Regions from separate parts of the Homo sapiens genome. Here regions 1 and 3 are each linked to region 2. The links come from fine-mapping of genetic effects on gene expression. A gene starts in region 2. Each other region holds a variant in brackets. All regions are shown on one strand. Distances are from middle to middle.

Region 1 (6,843 bases), 110 kb before region 2:
GGGAGGATCACTTGAGCCTAGGAGGTCGAGTCTGCAGTGAGCCATAATCACGTCACTGCACTCCATTCTGGGGGACAGAGGCTGACTCTGTTTTTTAAAAAAGAGATATTTGGGGCTCAGAAAGTCAGTAAACATTGCCACAGATTATAACCTAATCTACCCTGCACCTATTGATTGTGGGACAAGATGTAACATTTCAATGGCTAAGATAATCAAATAAATATTAAAAATATTAAAATTTCCTAATCACCTCTAATTCATTTATAAGGACTAACCACAGATAAGATGATTTAGGTTTCAAAAGAAGCCACATGAAGTAGTGAAAAGAGCACAGAAATGTAAGCTTGAAAATCTATATTCTATTCTGTTCTCTGTTCTGACCCATTTGTAGGATACTGGCAAGTGACTTAAGATCTTTAAATCCCAGTTCATTAATTGAAGAATAAAATGTTTGGATTTGTTGGTATTTAAGATGTCTGGCAACAATGGAATTTCTTGACTCTATGAAAGATGAGACTTATTGAGAAATAGAGGTAACTTTATAACACTGAAAGCCTATCCTAGTTAGATGCAGTAGGAAGGCTCATGAGCAACGTTTTCTTAGAAACCAGAATTCTTGCTTATTTTGGATTTACCACCACTGTTATAAGGAGCAAAAGAAAAACTTTTCCATCCTGGTTAGAAGATAAAAGGATGAGTTAAGATCATATGTCACAGATCTCAAGCCAGCAAAGTTTATAGGTAGAATAATTTAAAAATAAGCAAGTATGTAATCTACATCAATGAAAACATGGGAAACTTGTTTTTTTTTATCATTAATTAGAGCAACAAAACTGGGCAGTGGGGGTGGGGGCAAAGGCTTCTTAAGAGAAATTAATCTCAGTTTCATGCCTCAACTTGAAATGTACCAAACTTTCAGGTAATAGATTTATTTCATAGAAAGCAAAAAGAGAATATGTATTGAAAAAATTATTCCAAATAAAATGAAAATAATTTCCAGCAAAGATTAATATTGCTCTTAGAACTTAAGGTACAGGAATTTTTTTAAAAAAAGAGATTTCATATTCAGAAATATTCTCATAGCAGGAACTTTTTCTAGCGTAATATTAGAAAATTTCCTGAATATTATAGTAGTGAGAAACTTCATTTTAATTTAAATCTATTTTGCTGTTAGATTTCACACACCAAACATCCTATTAGTCTAGGTGGTTCAATTGCATAATAACAGTATTTTTTATCGCTTTAGATGATCTCTTTAGATCTGCTGGATAATTTTATCAATGAGAGAAAATGAAGACTGTTATTTGATTACTCGAGTCTTGAGACAATCATAAGTATTTAGATTCATAAAGCCAAATAAACAAAAGGGGGGTTTGTTGCTGGCCATATGATGAGCACCTAGCTTCTCTGTCGTTAAAAGTTTCCTCACACCTTACGATGTAACAAAACATTTCACAAATAGCCAGAAAGAAAATCAGATTCTTGTGAGGCTTCTCAAGATAGTTATTGTGAATGTTTGTGCATAAACATTCTGAGACAGACAGGGGTGCGCACCCTCCTGCACCCCACCGCCACACACAACCTATCTCAGAAATTTGCGAAAACATAGTCTAACAGTTTCTGTGGAAAATGCCTCATTAATCTTGGGTGAATCACCATAGGAACCTGTGGAAGGTGAAATCTTGAACAGGATGGAGCCTTCTCATCAGTCATTGATTAGTGTTAGAAATAACTCCTACTGTTTCATGTTACCTACAATCTTCAAAGTAATAATGGTTTTCAGTACAGAAATAAGTTAGAAATATTTCGAAGATAATGACTCAGATGTTATTTTAGAATTCCCCATTACACTAAATATCTAAAACAATAAAATGTTTACAGTTATACTTTGTTCTCTGCCCGATTTTTTCTAACTTTCCACGAATTCTCCTGTATCTCTGGATTATCTATGCCTCTGTTCTCAATTAAAATCTCCAAAGAATGGAAAGACTGAAATACAAGAAAAAGAGACAGAAGCTACAAGAGAAGAGAGAAGAAATAAAAAAGAAAGACAGGAACTTCACGTTCTTAAAATAAAAGGTAAAACTTCCCTTCTAGACTCTATTGCTCAAGATTTTCAGCATTGACCGCGATAACAAAAACTTCTAAGGCTTTTCAAAGTAAGTCTTTCGAAAAATTTCACTTATTTTTTTAACTCACTAACTATATCCAGAGGGAAACAAAATTCAACTGAAATATGAAACTCTCTTGGATGTCATAGACAGCCCATACTACATGTTTTCCAAAAGGGAGGAAGTTTTCCAAAAATTTGTAGAATGAGGTAGGTGTTTGTTCATTCTGGGCAAATCATCCATTAACACTCAGAAGACTTTTAAGTATGCCATGAGAGATTCTACCCATAGTCTCTATAGCACTTGTATTTCTTCAGCTAATTATATGAACACATTAATTAACAGTGGCAAGGACAAGCCTCAGCCCTCTAAAGGCAGGCAGTGACTTTACAATTCACAGAGAATAAATTGGAATCAAAATAAGGCTTGGCTTCTGTCAATGGTGTGCTGGTGCGTGTGCCAGGCTTAACGCCAGGCTTTCCAAAAGGGAAATAAATAAATATGTATATATGTATATATTATATATATATATATATATATAATATACCTGTGTTTATTATTTCTTATAAATTTTACTAATATACACAATGTATAGTATACAAATTATAAGTAATAATGAAATACCTAAAACTATTTTACATTTTATATAGCCAATTTATTCTCACAGAAGGCTTTTGTTTATTTTTGCCAGATTCTTAAATCCATAATCAATCTTTTTACAATTAATGAATGCGGTATCAACGTGAATGTTGGCTAATATTCCATTTACCTTAACAAGCAAGGTGAAAGTAAACACGTCAAAGTATGTTGGAACTTTATTCATGTATCAGGGATGTGTTCCTTTGCTGAATCAGATAATAGTTTGCAAAAACAGTACTGGAAGGATATGTCATCAAATTGTGTGCTATTCACAAGGTAGCAGCTACAGCTACAACATCCACATCCTTTTAGGTTTGATCTGTGTTCTTAACATTTCTTCCATAGCTTCCTCAAGTCTAGACTACCAAAAATAAATAAATAAATATTAAAGGCTTGATTCTTAGTGTTTGCTGATTTCCATGGTTTAAGTACTCCCACAATGACAGAATTTAAGCTACCAAAATCCCTGAACACGGAGTTTGGAAGAGATATGCAATAGCACAGCATTATATAGTATTTCCACCAGACGGACACAATAATTATAAATAATCTCAAGAGCACAGATAATATTATGATGTAAGTTAATTAGAAACTAGTGAATTTTGATTATTACCTTTCCTTTTGGTATAATTTATTTAATTGTAAGTTTAACCACTCCAATTTTCATTATTGGCTGTCTTTAACAACCAGATCACAAAATACCTGACTATTTAATAATCTGTTCTTGTGAGCCAGTGTGAACCAGCTACGGCACTTCACTGCCTCTTGTTCAAAGTTTACTGGGAACTTGAGTACTGAACATTTTGTTACAGCTTCATGAATCTAAATTCCTGTCCAGGTAAAAGATTACTGGAGTTACCAGAAAAGAATTTTGTTTAACTTCATCTAAGACTAAGACTATACCACTTAATAAGTCCTAAATTTGACAAATGCTTTTGAAACTTAATTTGTTAACATTATGAACTTCTTACCTCAATGTGTATTTACACATCACTGAAGAACAATAAAGGGTAGTTTACATGGGTTGACATGCTACATAGGCTTAAGGGCTTTCTGTTTCTTTGTTTCCAAAACAGATTACAGTGATCAGAATAGAGGTAGCAGGCAAATAGTCTGCTTATTCTCGCTGAAGCCATTCAGAGCAAAATTTATTTATACTATAAAATGCCAAGGCCTATAAAATTCCCAAAGCCCCATCTTTAAGAATGTAAGCAACAGATACTTGGATGTACAGACCAGAGTTTGGCCAGAATTCCATTAAGTGATCTTGAGTCCTATCAAAAAGCTAAGCTAAAAGATACATTAAAATAAGTAATATATTTAGTTGTGAATAAAACTG[T/TGC]GCCTCTAAAAAGTGAAGAGACAGTGACAAAGCAGAAGGACCAAGAGGGCCAGGAAGGTGGCCTCAAAGAGGGTCTGAATCGAAATTCCAGTCAAGCGGCTACACTAACCATGTAACTTTGGGAAGTTATTCAATCAGTCTAATCTTCAATTTCCTCAAAGATAAATTAGAGATGGCAGTACTATCAGGATTATATGAGAGACTATTTGAACATCACCTGGCACATAGTAGCAGATCAGTAAGTGACAGTATCATGAAAACATACTCCCTTCTGCCTAACCAGAAAGGCGAAGACTCAGGTGGGAACCTCATTGCGAATACGTGTGAGTAATTACTCAAGATTCTTTCTCTTGGAAGATTTTATTCAAAGGTGAAGTAAGCAAATACTAGCATTAGCTCCAAGGCTACCTCAGCCCCCAAATATCTACAACACACAGTTGGAGTTTGTCCTTTGAGTTAAGGCAATGCACATGAAATATGGGACTCTGAAGCTATACAGTATTTGATCACCATCAAATACAAGATATTTGGAAGTACTGCTAAACCTCTGCAGTCTGTTACAAAACAATAATAAAGCAGAGGTGTTAAATATCTGCTATCTGCTATTGAAAGAAATACAAACCATTCAAAAGGCACAATTTAGATATGATGAGATTAGAAAATTCCATTTTAGATGCATATTTTACCTGAAATTGATTTCCTTAGCCCTCAGTAGCCACTAATTTATTAATCTGTATTAGTTTTTCCATTTCATTTTTCTGAGAGAAGGTGGAGCAAAGAACAGGTAACTGATTTAGGTGAGGATGGGAAACTCCTACCACCTGGGAGGGCAGTCTTCACGGCATGAGGCAGTGATGGGCTTGGGCTGACCGCAGCTACTGGGGAGCAATGGGGGGCAAGACAAGGGAAGAGCTGCTCCAAACAAAATGATTTCATTTTCTAGTTTTTTTGTGAAAACACTTCTGTCCACAGTCATAAAATCACTTTCTTTGAGATACACAATATTTTCTTGGCTATTCTCATTAATATAGCAATATTATAACAATTTTGTAAATTTTAAAGAAATTACTGGGACCTTTAACTGCAAAAGTCATCTTGTGAGGTAATGAACAAAAAAGAAATGCTTCAACTGAATTAATAGTACTTCTTCATGCTTGTAGGACTCTAGAAAAAGTGTATGAGCTAGAATTTTGGAAATAGCACGTAACAGAAACAACAGCCAAGTGGGAAATTAAAGTCCAAAAGCAAAAGCAGTGGCAGTTCCAGAATGTTTCCAAAGGAGAGGCATAGGGGTCATCTTTTAGGTGGAAAGAAAACTAGGGAATTTTCCTTGATACAGTATTTGCAGAGTTTTTGCTTACAGGATATATTTATTTAGAGTAACTTGGTACCAGGAGTTGGAGGGGGCCCTGACGGAGATTATGAGTGAAATAAAGTCCCTACAAGACAAAAAAAAAAAAAAGTCTCACATTTCTTTGCCCATATACCTGGAATTGCTAAAATGAGAAGGGAAAAAAATCTAAAATTATATCCTTAGCTGAAAAACTTTACCCAATATTTTTCTGCTTATAAGAAACTAAGTTTAATCAATAATCAACATTGATTGCCTACAATATGTTTGGCATAGAAATTGGTACTGGGTAGGAACAAAATATGTTCTCTGCCCTCTTGTTGCTTAAATCAGGAGAGAAGACGGACATCAGGCAAGAAAGTGGTGTGATTGGTTTCAGAGGAGGAGGAAGGATGAGTGGAGATTCAACCTGGTCTAGAGGGTCGGCGAGGTCTCCCTGAGGAAGTGGCATTCCAAAAGGGGTTGCCTAGGCAAAAGCTGTGAGTTAAGGGGTGAGAGAGCTGAAAGGAGAACAGGAACAGAAAACATTTCTAGCAGAAGGAACTGAGTGTGGGAAACTCAAGAAGCAGAACGATAAAGAGTCTGAGGAATTTAAAAATCCTATCTGTCTGGAGCCGTGAGGGTGTTATCGGCCAAAGTCTGTAAGAAACAGGAAAACCACATTGGTAAGTCTAACAAAGAGAATTGAGAATTGCTTCATAGGCATGAGACAACAAAAGACTATAACTTCAAGAAACAGGAATCCCTAAGGCTAGGAGTACAAGGAGAAGAGAATAGGGTTACTAGAACCTAGAAGCTTGGAGGAGGGACCAGAGCTGGAACCTAGACCTCGGAGCAAGGGACTCTGGCCAACAGATCCTGATGGTATCTGTGGGGACACAGTGAGGCTGTTTTGGGTTTTGCAGGGAGGCTGGAGCCCACTGCTATTAGGGTGAAGAGCTCCTGCTGGGGTGATCTGCATACTCGGGAAAAACTCAAAGGAGCCTGCAATCACCCCTACCTCGTTGTTGCCAGCAGCATCTCATCCTTATGCTGCTGTTGTAAGATCAGGAGGCTGTTGCCCTAGTCTAGGTGAGAGAAGGCAGTGACCTGGACTGGGGTGATGTGTAGCAGTTATTTAGTAATATAAAATCTGAAGAATTTGTGATGGATTACACTGGAAACGGAAGGAAAGGGAAAGAACAAGGACAACTCATAGATTTCACCGGAGCAAGTAGGTGGGTGCTAAGGCCATGAACCAATACAGGGTTCCAAGTAAGAAAGGAGGGGTTGAAGAACAGAAGTTTAATTTGGGACGCCTATAAGGCATTCAAGCAGGAAGAGGGGCTAGAGCTTGGGGGACATAAGTGATCTAGAAATATAGTTTGGAAAACTTAGGTAGGACAGATAGTAGCTGAAGCCAT
Region 2 (6,843 bases):
GTGTCTAAAACCCCGATATCTGGCTGCCACTGGGGTTCCTCCTATGTGAATTGTGAGGTAGAATGAGGAAGAAGATCTGAAGTACATTCCTGGGACTTTGGAAATTATCATATTGAAAATTGTACTAGTAAATTGCAAAGACAACAAATAATGAGTCCTTCTCTACAGGCATTCTCAGATCCTGGTATCTCTACAACACAGTGGATATTTGAGGCAGGACGATGGATGGGGCCAGGTGTGAGAGCGAGAATCAAGAAACCTAGGATCAAGGAGTTTTACCAGAGCTTTGTGTGACCTCGTGCAATGTCACTTTAACCTGGATAGCGTCAGGTTTCCTCACGCATAAAATAAGATCAGATGATGCCCTCTTGGATTCTTTGACTGCAGGACAATCATTAGGCCATAGTGAACAGATGCGCTTGGTTGCCAGACCGCGCCCTTTGCGGGTCTATCAAAAGGGCAAGCGCATATTCTGGAGCTGTCTCGGAGACTTGGACAGAAAGATTCGAGGCAAATATTCTAGGCTGGGAAATTTCGCGCCGAGCCCCCCCCTCAGTTAGCCTGTCTAAAGGCTGGTGTGGCCAGAGCGAGGCAGAGAGCTCTGCACCTACTGTCGGGGCTGACAATGATTTATGCGCTTGTGACCCACGTAGACCATAAACCTAGTTTGCTAGACGTACAGGGAACTGCGCCGCAGTTAATGCAGAGGACTTATCCTCTGACCTGCAATGTCTCCCCACCTGGTGCTCTACAGCTCCAGAGAGCAGGGATTTCAGCTTTTCCTCCCTCATTGGATCCAATTTCAATCCCCTCGGTTAACTGAAAGTGTGTTGACTTCCACCCAGCCGGCAGGACCCTAAGGGCGCCTGGAGCAGTCTGGTGCGGGTCCTGGCTGCAGCATGCCCAGCAGAGCTCCGGGTGCAGGAGGCTGCAAAGCCACCGCCGCGTCCAGGCCCCTTGAGCGGAGGTGGGAACGATCCGCCTTAGAGTTCAAGGTGAATTGCTGTGACAGTGGCGGGTGGAGGAGGGGAGTTCGAGCCGTTCGCCTCGGGGAAGAATTATCCCCGATCATTTATTTTTAGATCTGAATTCCTCCAGAACCCAGCAGAGGCTGTGGCCAGAGCCCCAGGGCCAGGCAAGCGGCCAAGCTGCGCTCTCGATAAAGGAGCCAGAATGGTTCCATCTGGTTACAAACATATCTTTTTATTAAAAAGCAATCAGATCCTGAAGCGCTTCCCTTGCGGTTTACCGCTCTCCGCAGGCTGCTTCTCCGAAGCCAGCGGTGGTAGCGCCCACTCGGTTGAGCCCACGCCTCCGCCAGGCAGCGCCTCCGCCAGGCAGACCTCCTGCGGGACATTTTGTGGCCAGGGGGGTTCCTGCCCAGGGACCTCTAATAGGGTCGGTGGAAGCTAATTTGAATCTTCCCAGTTCCTTCCCTGTTTATTTCTCAACCCAGCAGTTCAAAAATTCACTTTATAACGGTCCCCTAACAAAAACACGAGTAAGAAAGATAGCAAAGAATTAAGCTGGACAGGCACCCATGTTGCGAAAAAGGTTTTGCTTGGAGACTGCAGGAGAGGGCTATCCCTCTTTACAATTCACGACGTTACTACCAACTTTGCCATTGAGTGGTTCCTCTCCCTGCCCGAATTCCTGGCCATCTTCGTTCCAGAGAGCGATGCAATCATGGCCTTGAAACCGAACGGGGCGTAACGTGCCATTCCTCTCCAGCTCCCGAGCCCCACTCCCACCCTTGCCGTTGAAACTGTGAAAAAGCCGCCAAAGTTTGGGCACCCAGCCTGGCAGTCGGAAGACAGTGAGATAAAGAATGCGATAGTAAGTCCTTAAGTGCTTCCTAGAGATAAGGTCCCGGAATCCTGGAAAAATTCAGTCTGGCCTCCCTACTTCAGCAAGTCGCCTCCTGCTTCTGTCAGCCCCCTCCCCACACACACCTGGAGGGAGAGGCGGTGGCCACAGGGGTAGCTGGGGCAGACCCTCCGCTCCTCCACTCCCGGTGGCCAGGGGTCCTAAGGCCACGCGGCTGGCTTTCTTCTCTGGGAATCAGGAGATGATAATGAGAAAATCCCTCAACCATTGGCGCGACGAAACTCAAAAATGGACAGCCCTCCCTTATTCATAAATATTACTTCAAATATGTTAAAGACGTTAAGTAATTTTTAGTCTCTTTAGAATTTCCAACGCTATAGTTTATTATGACAGATAAGGTTTGATTTGTGCTAGTCGCGTGCCAGGACACTGAAGGTGAAAAGAAGGAAAACAAGAAAGAGTTTCTAAAAGAATACACGTAACATTTAAGATAACTACATACAAAGTGCTCACTTAATTTCTCTTAAAACAGTTACAATGAATAAATTACATTTCCAACTTAATAAAATTTAATTCTCTTAGTCGTTTGTACAATTGATGGCCTTTGGTTATAAAATTTTACTTTTTGGAGAAATATTGCCCCTCTGTCAAATTATAGCACATGACAAATAATATAGCAAATAATAGGTTTGACTTTTAAACATACACAGTTATTTGAAACAAAATGTTTTTAACTTTCTGGCAGCATAGGCAAAACAGTAAAAGCACAGTTATATTTTAGGAATTATCTTAATACATTCCCCTCTATGATATCAGAACTTACTCCTGATTGAACCAAGGAAGAACAGCTAACTCTTCGGATAAAACAATTTTTTCTCCTTCATTCCCAGGCATGGTTTGGAAAGCAATAAATGCATATTTGCAAGAAGTCATGAAAAATCAAGATTAAAAATACTGTATAATCTTCCTGGTAAAACATATATACATTTTATATCTGACCATATGAAACTGTCATCTATAAGTATTACATTTTAATGAAGCATAACTCCTCATGATATATTTATTTCATAACAAATGGCAAAGGTAATATTACTTATCTTCAAGTATTTTTTCTTTTAAAAGCTCCTCCCACCAAATGAGAGACCTCTATTTAAACAGCAACTTCTATTGAAATATATGATCTGAAGGAATTCGCTATTTGAAAGTCTTTTGACAGCTTTACAGATTATATCTGTTGAGTTTTTTCTCTCTCTCTTATTTCCACAATTTACATGTGTGAATATATGGGTAACCCTCACTAACTTTTCAACATCAGTCACGCACATTAGGTAGAAAAAATTAATTTTGAAACTATTCTTTGTTTTTAAAATGATATATGTCATTACTGTTAGGTGAGTAAGCTAAGTGTGTTTTTTTGGAAGGGGAAGGTAGGTTAATCACAATGATAGAGCAAATATAAATAGTATTATGTTGTTGGTGTTAAAAGGCAAAACCTCTTAGTCTGTGAAGATCACCTACTTACCTTCTCTCCATTAAAAAAAGAGTTGAACTTTTTGGCTCCCTGTATAATGTGTGTTCTCCATAGATTTTATACTAAATATTAATATTAAGATTATAGAGCTAACCTTTTTCTAATGTCAAAGAGCTTTTGAACAATACAGGCACAAGAGAGAAAAGACACCTACCTCATACATTCACATCCCAAATTTCCTATCTCCAATGCAACAGGAATAATCTTTTTATTCCATTAAAATGGTCACTAACCTTATAATAATAAAGGCATGTTTTAATCTCTTACCTGAAGGAGTCTTATCAATGTAACAAGAACTGAAATTGTGACTGGTCCTTGTTGTCGTTTACAGTACAGAGATCTGTACTGTATTGCCTTTGTGGAGGGCTGAAGTAACAACATATGACTACTGCCTCCTGAGACCCTTATGAAAATAAGATATATAGCTGGTTCAAATAAATGTTTTAGGCCTTGACCCAGGAATATAATTGAGAAAAACAAATTATTTCACATACACTAAAACATAATTAAAATGTTATTCTAAGCTTTGCTTTTGTGTGTTATGTTGTATGTGCATACTAATGTTATCCTCAATCATAAAGCTATGTAAGAAATGATTGTACTTTTAAAAATGTTACGTAAACATCTTTTTTCCTAAAAGTGGCAAAAATTACCTTAGAAAGCAGTTACAGTGCAACTTTCACTTTTAAAGGTTTTCAAGATTGAATATTTTAATTCATAACATATTTCTCATTGTTAAAATTCTTTGGCTTCCTCATATCTGGCATTTAAAATTTTTCAGTTGTTTTGTAGACTATGTATGTAAGGTTGCATTTTTCACTGTCAACATAAAGTTATTGTTTGCTTTGGATTTAATATGTATTTGGATATGTATGCATATTTGTTTAAAACTATGAACTCTGGGGAGGGTTTTAATTCTATGCAACATAAGTCAGTTTTATATAATGAATATATACAACTTCAGCTAATAAAAAGTAAGATTTTAATCTTGACAATATATTCCTAAAATGCATTAAGATATTGTCAATCTAAAATGAGCTTGATTTGAGAACAAAAAGAATAAGTTCTTTTAATGAACTAGTGGTATATTGTTATATGTATATATGTTTTGCTGATTTTAGCAAGAAAATGGAAAATAATCCATAAGAAAATGGAAAATAATCCTCCTGCAAAAGAAACCTGAAGTGGATTACCTAATAAATTGTTTTCAGCCTGAATTTTAAGGTATCACGACATAGTCATGTTTGTTTTTTAAAATATCATTTTCAAAAATCAAAGACATTAATGGTATTCTCTATTTCAAAACTATGATCATTATTCTGCTTTTTGCCACCAATATTTATGCTAGGAGAAACATGTTTAAGAGTCATCAACACCTTGGGCTCATTGACCATACGAATGAGTCACATGGTCAAAATGAATAAAATGTTATTTAGAAAAAGGAAAAATATATATATATATTTATACATATGCATAGGTATTCTTTTTAAATGAATAAAAGGGCTTCATAATTTGGGACAGCAGAAAAAGGGAGTAGCAAGCATCACAGCCCAAAGCAAGAATGAAAGTAGCAATGGTGTCTAGACAAAGGAGCAAGGATATTTGCTTTTACAGTTAGTTTTATTTGGGATATCTTGGAAGAAAGAAGGGTAGGCTCTCAATGGCTAAATTAAATTATCTGGATGATTTGTCTACACAGAGCAATAATGACATCTCTTTTTGTTGTTGTTTGCTTTTGTTTTGTTTTTTGTTTGTTTGTTTGGAGACAGAGTCTCACTCTGTTGACCAGACTGGAGTTGCCCGGGCTGGAGTGCAGTGGCATGATCTCGGCTCACTGCAGCCTCCACTTCACGGATTCAAGAGATTCTCCTGCCTCAGCCTTCTGAGTAGCTGGGATTAAAGGTGCCCACCACCACACCAGCTAATTTTGGTGTTTCTAGTAGAGACAGGGGTTTCACCATTTTGGCCAGGCTGGTCTTGAACTCCTGACTTCAAGTGATCCGCCTGCCTTGGCCTCCCAAAATGCAGAGATTAGAGGCCTGAGCCACCGCGCCCGGCTCCTCTTCCTGATGTGCTATGTAGATACATCTCTAACAGGAAACTATAGATCCCCCAGCATTTGCTTTTGAAATAATTCAAAACTTTCATTTCAGTTAGGAAACACATTTTGCCAACATCATATTGTCTATCTTTTCCATTACATTCCCCATAACAATAGTTTTTAAATGAAGTATGCCTCAACTTAATGTTTATTATTAATGTAACAACTATTTGTTGACTGTTTACTACAATTCTCGGAGCACCAATGACTAAAACAAACAAAATAACCTTCCCTTGGTAGAGTTGGGGAACTTTTCCGCAGAGCATGGAAATTAAGGGGAAAAATCCTGTAGGTTTCAGGTTATCCACTAGGTGGCAAGGTGTGCAAAAGTGACTGCCTATTGCAGAGCAAAATTTGGTACAAAGAATGTGGCTTTCTATGAAAATTTCCACCATATTTTGTTTGTAATGATATTTGTAAAGTCTCTTTTTGAGCTCTACAGTTAATAGCTAACGGTCAGGATTCACTCTGTGTTCAGTTTTACAAAGCATTCTTTGCTTGGGGCTCATCTCTTCAAGAAGAGAGCCAGCTGTGTTCCCTAGTGGCCCATCTACAAGATCCCCCAGCTTACCTTAAGAGATTTTTCTCTTTTCCTCCCTATATTTCTCTGTGCCCCCAGATGTGTGGATTATGAAATCTGCCTAAGGGTCTGAACATCTGGCTTTGCAGAAGGACCACAAAGCGTTGGTTCAATTTTATTCAAATTTACCTAGATCAATTTAGATATCACACTTTGATTTGCTGATGTGGGGGGTTAGTGTCCAAAACACTAACATCTTACAATAACATCCATGCTGATAAGTAGTCAAACACATATGCCCATATGTACATACATGCAATTATGAATATATTTTATTTTCAGAGACTACTTAAGTGAGATCTCACATTTATAGCAAAGAAATAAAATTATTTCATTTAATCAGACCTCTTCTTTGGAAAAGAATTGTGATATTTTTCTCAGTGAAATTGGGCCTTTATGCATGTATTTTGTTTTCAGAGACCATTTAAGTGAGATCTCACATTTATAGCAAAGAAACACAATTACTTCATTTAATCACACCTTTTCTTTGGTAAAGAATTGTGTTCTTTCTCTCAATGAAATTGGATCTTTATGCATCTTTAGATCTCCCAAAGAGATTAAAGAAAAAAAATCTTTCCGTCTTTGAAAAATGGTTTATACAGGATGTAGAACACTTGTAGGGTTGTTTAAATATAGAGTTTGAGATTTTTCTGTGCTTGTCTAACATATGAAATCTGTATCTTTGTTTTCAGATGAGTAGCCTCTAATCCAAAAGTGAGATATTAGCTAGGCATGGTGGCACTCACCAGTAGTCCCAGCTACTTGAGAGGCCAAGGTAGGAGGACTGCTTGAGCCCTGGAGGTC
Region 3 (6,843 bases), 100 kb before region 2:
CAAAAAATGAAAGCAAAAATGAATCTGAAATGTTAGATATTTGGAAATGAATGAGAGACTGGTTTGAAGAAATATAAGAGAACAAAGACATGCTTGCATTTTGAAAGCCGTTTTCCATAAATTCTTCAAGAGCTGAATATGCTAATTTAGCACACTGAACCGGTGATTTGATTTATCCTGTTCTGGATTTCTGTAATATAAAGAAATTATACTACAGTGAATGTCTAAAAATAGCAAAGTGCAACCAATCATGTTCCTTATTTATTGAAAACCACTAAGTGAACGTGACATGAGTGGTTCTATTCATGATATTGAAAGAATTCCTTTTTATACCTCACAGAACAGAAAAGCCTTTTATCCTTTTAATCAGAACAACACCTTTCCAGATTATCTAACAAGTCAGAAAACCCATTTCTTATAGTATGATATGGCATGTTTTAGGTTGCTGGTCAAAACCTCCTTTAATTAAATTGGTCATATATATGAACCCAAAGTATTTAGAATTAAGGTCTCTGTAGTAAGACTAACCCATTTAATTTTCTTATTTATGCTATTCATAACTGAAGGAAATTTAAAGAAACTGCTAAATACTGCCCATTAATTTTCTCCTTGCTCAATTTTGATGTAGAAATAATTTCGCTTTTATTTGTTTACCAAGAAGTACCATATTTAGGAACATTTAGCTAGACGTTTCAAAGCTATAAATAAAATTCTAACTTAATTCTGCAAACTGTTTCGTACCCCAATAACTAGAACCATAGAAAATAACTGGCTGGCTGCCAAAAAGTAAGGCGTGGGATAGAAAGCCTTTCTAGTATTCAAGTTTCTGAAATGAGAAATTTAAATGAATGCTCCTTATGATGTCAAGAAATCTCCATCCTGCTTAGTCCAACTCAAATATTTCCAGTTTTCAAGTTAGTATCTCTGTTTAAAATAAGCAAATGTGGATTGGTCTTCAGTGTTTGTCTGGATACTTTCTGGCAGTGGAGAAACGGGCATGCAAGGGTTCCCAGATTCACCCCACAGCCTCGCATTAGAGCAAAGGTGTTAATTTCCCTTGTAATTTTTCCTTCTCAATAACAGCATGCTCAAACCCAAATATTTCTCAGTATATTATTACAATTTTAAAAAATTGCTGGCTTATCCAATTCTGATCTGAAAAACCTTTCTCTAATTAGTGTCTTTGCAAAACTGAACTCAGGCAAATTTTAATCCCTCATTTACTGATTTTATTTTAATACTATTACTCAGCATATGTTGGCTGCATTAAACCATTACAGTAAAAATTAAAATGAAAGTCATATGATTTATTCCCCTTTAAAAGTGCTCAATTGGTCTAGTAAAAGTCAAGTGCCAAATACCAGATGTCGGATTTAAAAGAAATTCTGAACAAGAAGGAAAAAACCCTCCCATTACTCTCTTAAGATATTTAGTTGAAATTAATGCCATCCCAGAAAAAAATAATATTAACATATGAATACATTAGTCTGAATATATTTGATTTAAGAAAGAAGAGATGCAGGGAATAAAAATAAAAATATATTAATATTTATTGATTTAAACCCCGCTTTTGAAAACTACATTTGTATTGCTGTTACACACAATTTTCAAGCCAACTTGATATTTTACAAAGAAAATTAGAGTGGTTGTTTCAATTTAGAATGCAGAAGGTCAGAATAGGAAGACAAGAAATAGTATAGATACTTATATCAAGTTTTTATTACTTTTCCTCCAAACTTTTGTTTCTCCTCACTATTTATCAGCATAATTTTTAACCAAAATCCACTTCCTGGAAAAATAAACTGATGTGCTGAAGTTAATAGAAAGATATGTTCAAAAGAAATAGCCAAATAAAGATAACTACCTTTTCAGTTCTTATCATACTTTCAAGACAGCTATTTCATATTCAACACTCCTAAAACATAGTTATTCCCCAACTCCAGATCTTTGCCTACATTACTTTTTTCTTTCAAAAATTGCTGTTCTCTTTCCAACAGTTAAGACCTACACCTCAAAGATGGTCTAACTATAGCATTTCTTCCATAATTTTTTAAAAATTATTCCTCCCCCACCCACTCTGCCATAACTACAATGCTGCTATAGTGGTCACTGGCTAGCAATTCCCAAAACACTACTGCCTTTCTCCCTGGATGCGGCAAGATTACAGTCCCCGGCTTTCTTTTTTAGTAAGGTATGGCCATGTGAAAGTAGACTGACCAATGGGCTGTCCGCAGAAGTAGTTATACCCTCTGTATGGGTATTTCCTTTCACTGTGCTGGCTGCATTTGATTGGCAGTATGATCGTGGCGGAAGTCCGTGCTGGAGGTGGTAGTTCTGGGGTTCCTGATGGCTCCATGCGGTAGATCCTGCCCTCCTGTTCACCCCAAACCCCAAACCCAGCCCTCCGTCCTATTGAACTTTACATAGCATAAAATATTATACTGTGTTTATCCACTGAGATTTCTCAGTTCCTCAGCAGCTGACAATATCTTAACTAATGTAAGTAAAATTATGATCTCTCAGTTGACAGAATATACATAATATTTTGTGTTTTTCTTGTCACTGCCTATATTCTCCTTATTTGTTAATGATACCTCTTCTGACAAGTTCCTTAAAGTCAGGAACTCCTCTTTTTTTTCAGCTTTTATTCCTTACAGCCTCTGGTAATAAGTAGATGCCTAATGAATTGCTCTTTATCTGTCAATCTGAGTTTATTATGCTACCCAAAACTAACAGTCTCTTGGTTCATTCATTTATTATTTTATTCATTTATTTATCCAAAATATCTGTTGCATCTTTGCCATTTGTCAGTGCATTAGACACCTTTGGGATATCTTCCCAGCTCACATTAACTCCCCATTCGTAAGGGGTGACCTTCGACAATAGTCTCAGTGCCTAAGCTTGTGGCTGACTTGACCAGAGTACATTATCTCACTCAAGCTGGGCCAGTTAGATCCGGTCCCCAGGCAAGTTGCTAGGAAATAGCTAGTTCATCCTAGCTCATGACTGAAATTGTACTCTACCTACTTGAAAGCATTGGCAGCTATGTAATGCCACATTGACCTAAGAAGCCCAAAAAAGTATAGAGCAAAGAGGAAAAATAAAATAAGCACCCCCAAAACGTAAAACCCTGAAGCCTCTCCATGGCCTGTCTGCAATTATTTCCTTAGACCAGCCTGAATTCTACCACTGTGCTCTATAGCTTAACTATACATTACCTGTTTTGTATAAGCTATGTCAGGATGGCTCCTGTTACTTGCAACTAATAAAATTTTAATTAATAAAACAAGACATTTTGCTTTTCCCAGGGATACAATGATGAACAAGAGATATATAGCTCTTACTCTTATAGTAAAACCAGTAGGTGGCAATTCAGTAACTTTGCAAGGGAAAAAAATGAACTTATTTTTCAACCCTCTCAGATGCTGATTTTCCTTCCTTTTGAAGAAAAAGATTTGGGGGTGATTTTCATTTGTGCTACACATGAAACAAGAGTTTTATTATTCATGATAA[T/G]ATCACTTTCTCCTCTCCTAATGTTTTTTCTCTTGTTATTTTGCGATTCCAAAGTGTAACAAAAATTGTAAATTTAAACATCGGAAAAAGAAGTCAAATACATCTGTGTTGAAAAGAGAAAGGTGGGAAACTTTGAATTGGGGTGATGGTAATGGCGATGTGACAAAGTGGAAAGATATAAAACATTAGTGAGATGAAAGACGCGGAACTTAGGAACTAACTACACACAAGAACAACAGAGGGGAGAACCAAGATGGCTGTGTTTCAAGCATGAGTCACTAGGAAAATGGCGCAAGACCAGGATGCTGGTTAAAGGGAAAAAAATGACACATGGCATATTGCTGCATTTCAGAAAGTCTCCATTCTCAGGGTACATCAAGATATTTTGGAGATCTTTGAAAAGATACAATTGCCCCTCCTTCAGCCCCAGAGATGATGAATCCATTGGTCAGGAGTGATTCTGTGTATTAGTGTTTTTAAAAACCCATGTTGATGGGATTGAGAACAAAATTCATTTGAAGTGTCTGGCTCTTCCACAAAAGTATTTGCTTGTTTACTTTCTAAAAGATGTTTCTTAGTAGACTCTGGGGACTTCAAAAGTGTGGAGGGAGGAAGAGGGCAAGGGTTGCAAAACTTCCTTTGGGTACTATGTTCACTATTTGGGTGATGGGTTCAATGTCAGAAACCTGCATGTGTAGCCCCTGAATCTAAAATTTTAAAAGAAAAATAAATCAATTTAAAACTAAAAATTTTTTTTTATTTAAAATAGTAAAACACTGTACAGAAAACTTGAAAACCATGCCACTTAGTAATATGGAGTTGAAAATTAAGGCAGAAGATAAGAGGAGGAATGAAAAAATGAAAACAAAGCAAAATACCTATTAAGTAATACAGAGGATGGAAAGGAAAGGGTATATTCTGTAAGTCCTGCAGTTTCTTTTCCTTACCTCAGATACTGAAGCTTCTAACAGAAAATCCAGAAGACTCTGGGAAGTAGGTGAGGTTTGACTTCAATTCCTCTTCTTGCTGAATTCCCAATCTTTCCGTGCCTCTCACACCACACTCAGTAATTGCCTGTTGCTTTTACTTACACAGACACTCCTAATCACTGACTTCAGCTTTTCTCTTCATTGCTTTCTGGGATGGAAAAGAAGGAATAGTTAGCTAGGGAATTATCCAAAGCATCGTTAATAATTACCTACAAAACAATTCGCTTCTATAGCTACTGAATGAATGAATAAGTTGCTACATAAGAATCAACTACAATTCTTTCCTTTTTCTCCTCTTCAAAAGGAAAAAAGAGAAGAGGCATTATCTACTATTTATTAAACTGAACTTAAACAAGAGATGAAACCTAACGCAGCTTCTCCTCCCTTACAGAATAGGTAAAACAGATATGAATCAGTGAAGCAGAAACCATGTAATAGAAAAAGTGGAATATAATGAATTTGGATTTGATGATGTTTTACAAGCAGATATCGCAAGTCAAATTTCACAGCAGTAAAAACAACAGAAGTCCACAAAGGATAGATGAAAACATGTCTCTCTCCTGTCTCTCTCCAATCTCTGTGTGTGTGTGAGAGAGTGTGTGCGCGGGCGTGTGCGTGTGTGTGCGCGTGTGTGTGTGCGCGTGCGTGCGTGTGTGTGCGTGCGTGCGTGTGTGTGTGTGGTGTAGGGAGAGGGATAGATTCCTTTTCAAAAAGTGTCCAGAGGGGGAAAAAAAATGCATCATGCCACCTAGTGGCGGAAATTAAGTTGATTCCTTTTAACTCGACAAAGCGACTTTGCCTTTCTTTAGAAAATCAGATGAATTCATTAACATAGTGGAATCTTGATTTGGCAAACTACACAGTAGTTAAAATGTAAATACCAGGTCTATGTTTTAATTTTTCATCCACCAATGGCATTAAGAAATATGATGAACTTTAAAGAGCCCTGAAGTCAGAAGCAGGATATCTTTCCTTCTCTTTCGACCAGGTCACTTAACCACCCTGGAGCTCAGTTTCCTCCATAAAGGGCCAGAATAGATGAACTCTTAGCTCTTCAATTCCATGTTTCAAAGTATGCAATAGACCACATAATCAGGGTACTCTTATCTAATGCAGTTCCTTGTGACAAAGTCAGGCCACCATCTTCACTGATTAAACGCCGGATGACACAACATGCCTTCTACACTTTCAGCCTCATTCCAGTCACATTTTACAGAGTCCGTGCTTCATTGCAAGCCTTTCTTTATTACTGCTTTGCATTATTGGATGTCTGCTGCTGAGAGTCCCTAGATTACAATTCTTAACTTCTGTGAACTGCAGTGGTGCATATTTGTGATGTATTTTTCTAACTTACGTGAATGTCCACAAATTCCCCTTTGAAATCAAGTAAAGTATTCCTCCAAGAGAAAAAGAAATAGTTTGGAATTATGTAGCAATATTTTTCAGACATTGTGAAGTATAATTGCCCCTTTCTCCCACTCTCACTAATAATATACATCCATAATGATATACATCTGTGAATCAGATTTAGAAAGGGCATTAAAAGCAACAATTAATCTGGGCTATCCAGAATACATAATCTCCTACTAACTAATCTGTCCTTGTAACTTAGCGACTAAAGTGTGAACATTTTGTTTTAATTCAAAAAGAAATAAAATTTTCTTAAAATATAAGATTTTCTTTTTTATTTATTTTATTTTATGTATTTATTTATTTACTTTTTGAGATGGAGTCTCACACTGTTGCCTAGGCTGGAGTGCAATGGTGCAGTCTTGGCTCACTTCCACCTCTGCCTCCTGGCTTCAAGTGATTCCCCTGCCTCAGCCTCCCGAGTGGCTGGAATTACAGGTGCCCACCACCACGCCCGGCTAATTTTTTGTATTTTTAGTGGAGACTGGGTTTCACCATGTTGGCCAGGCTGGTCTCGAACTCCTGACCTCGTGATCCACCCACCTCGGCCTCCAAAAGTGCTGGGATTACAGGTGTAAGCCACCGTGCCCAGCCATAATATTTTCATTATTCCAAATGTGATGGAAAACCCATAACACTTAGCTGATGCAAATTGTTTAAAAAGTATCAGATACATAGATGAAAAGTCTTTTTAGTCAGATATTTGACTTTCTCTGCAGCAAAGCCTTGCCCCTCACCCTCAGCCCCAGCCAGCTGAGGGAAGAGTAATTAGCTCTCCAAAGAGAATAAGTGGTTAATGCAAGAACATGTTTATTTGCTCTAAGAAGACTGTCTTAAGGTTATATTCTCTACCCAGATTGCATCTTCACTGTTGACAACACAGTGTGTCACAGATGAAATTATGCTTGGGGTAAAATTAGTATTTCCTTCT

Alleles and levels. Positions count from the first base shown, and alleles are read on the strand shown. Sizes are in standard deviations (SD) of each study's normalised expression. Not every link is listed here.
For the expression in nucleus accumbens of the gene that starts at base 3,710 in region 2, T is the low allele of the variant in region 1 and TGC is the other (large effect, 1.0 SD a copy in GTEx).

The links. PIP is the estimated chance that this variant, and not a neighbour inherited with it, causes the effect.
Region 1: its variant is fine-mapped to the expression of LINC02268 in nucleus accumbens (GTEx, PIP above 0.99). The same link has a PIP of 0.9 or more in prefrontal cortex.
Region 3: its variant is fine-mapped to the expression of LINC02268 in cerebral cortex (GTEx, PIP above 0.99). The same link has a PIP of 0.9 or more in anterior cingulate cortex and caudate.

Annotation. Positions count from the first base shown.
Region 1 is chr4:174,101,850-174,108,692 of GRCh38, forward strand. All of the region lies in intron 2 of LINC02268 (long intergenic non-protein coding RNA 2268), which reads right to left. Among named protein-coding and RNA genes, the nearest start is that of LINC02268, 120 kb to the right of the region's middle. The variant T/TGC (reference allele first, on the strand shown) is at 4,090.
Region 2 is chr4:174,216,689-174,223,531 of GRCh38, forward strand. It overlaps LINC02268 (long intergenic non-protein coding RNA 2268), which reads right to left and starts at 3,710. Exons shown (of 5, transcript NR_125896.1): 1 at 3,626-3,710.
Region 3 is chr4:174,115,437-174,122,279 of GRCh38, forward strand. LINC02268 (long intergenic non-protein coding RNA 2268) reads right to left here. Exons shown (of 5, transcript NR_125896.1): 2 at 4,461-4,650. Among named protein-coding and RNA genes, the nearest start is that of LINC02268, 100 kb to the right of the region's middle. The variant T/G (reference allele first, on the strand shown) is at 3,514.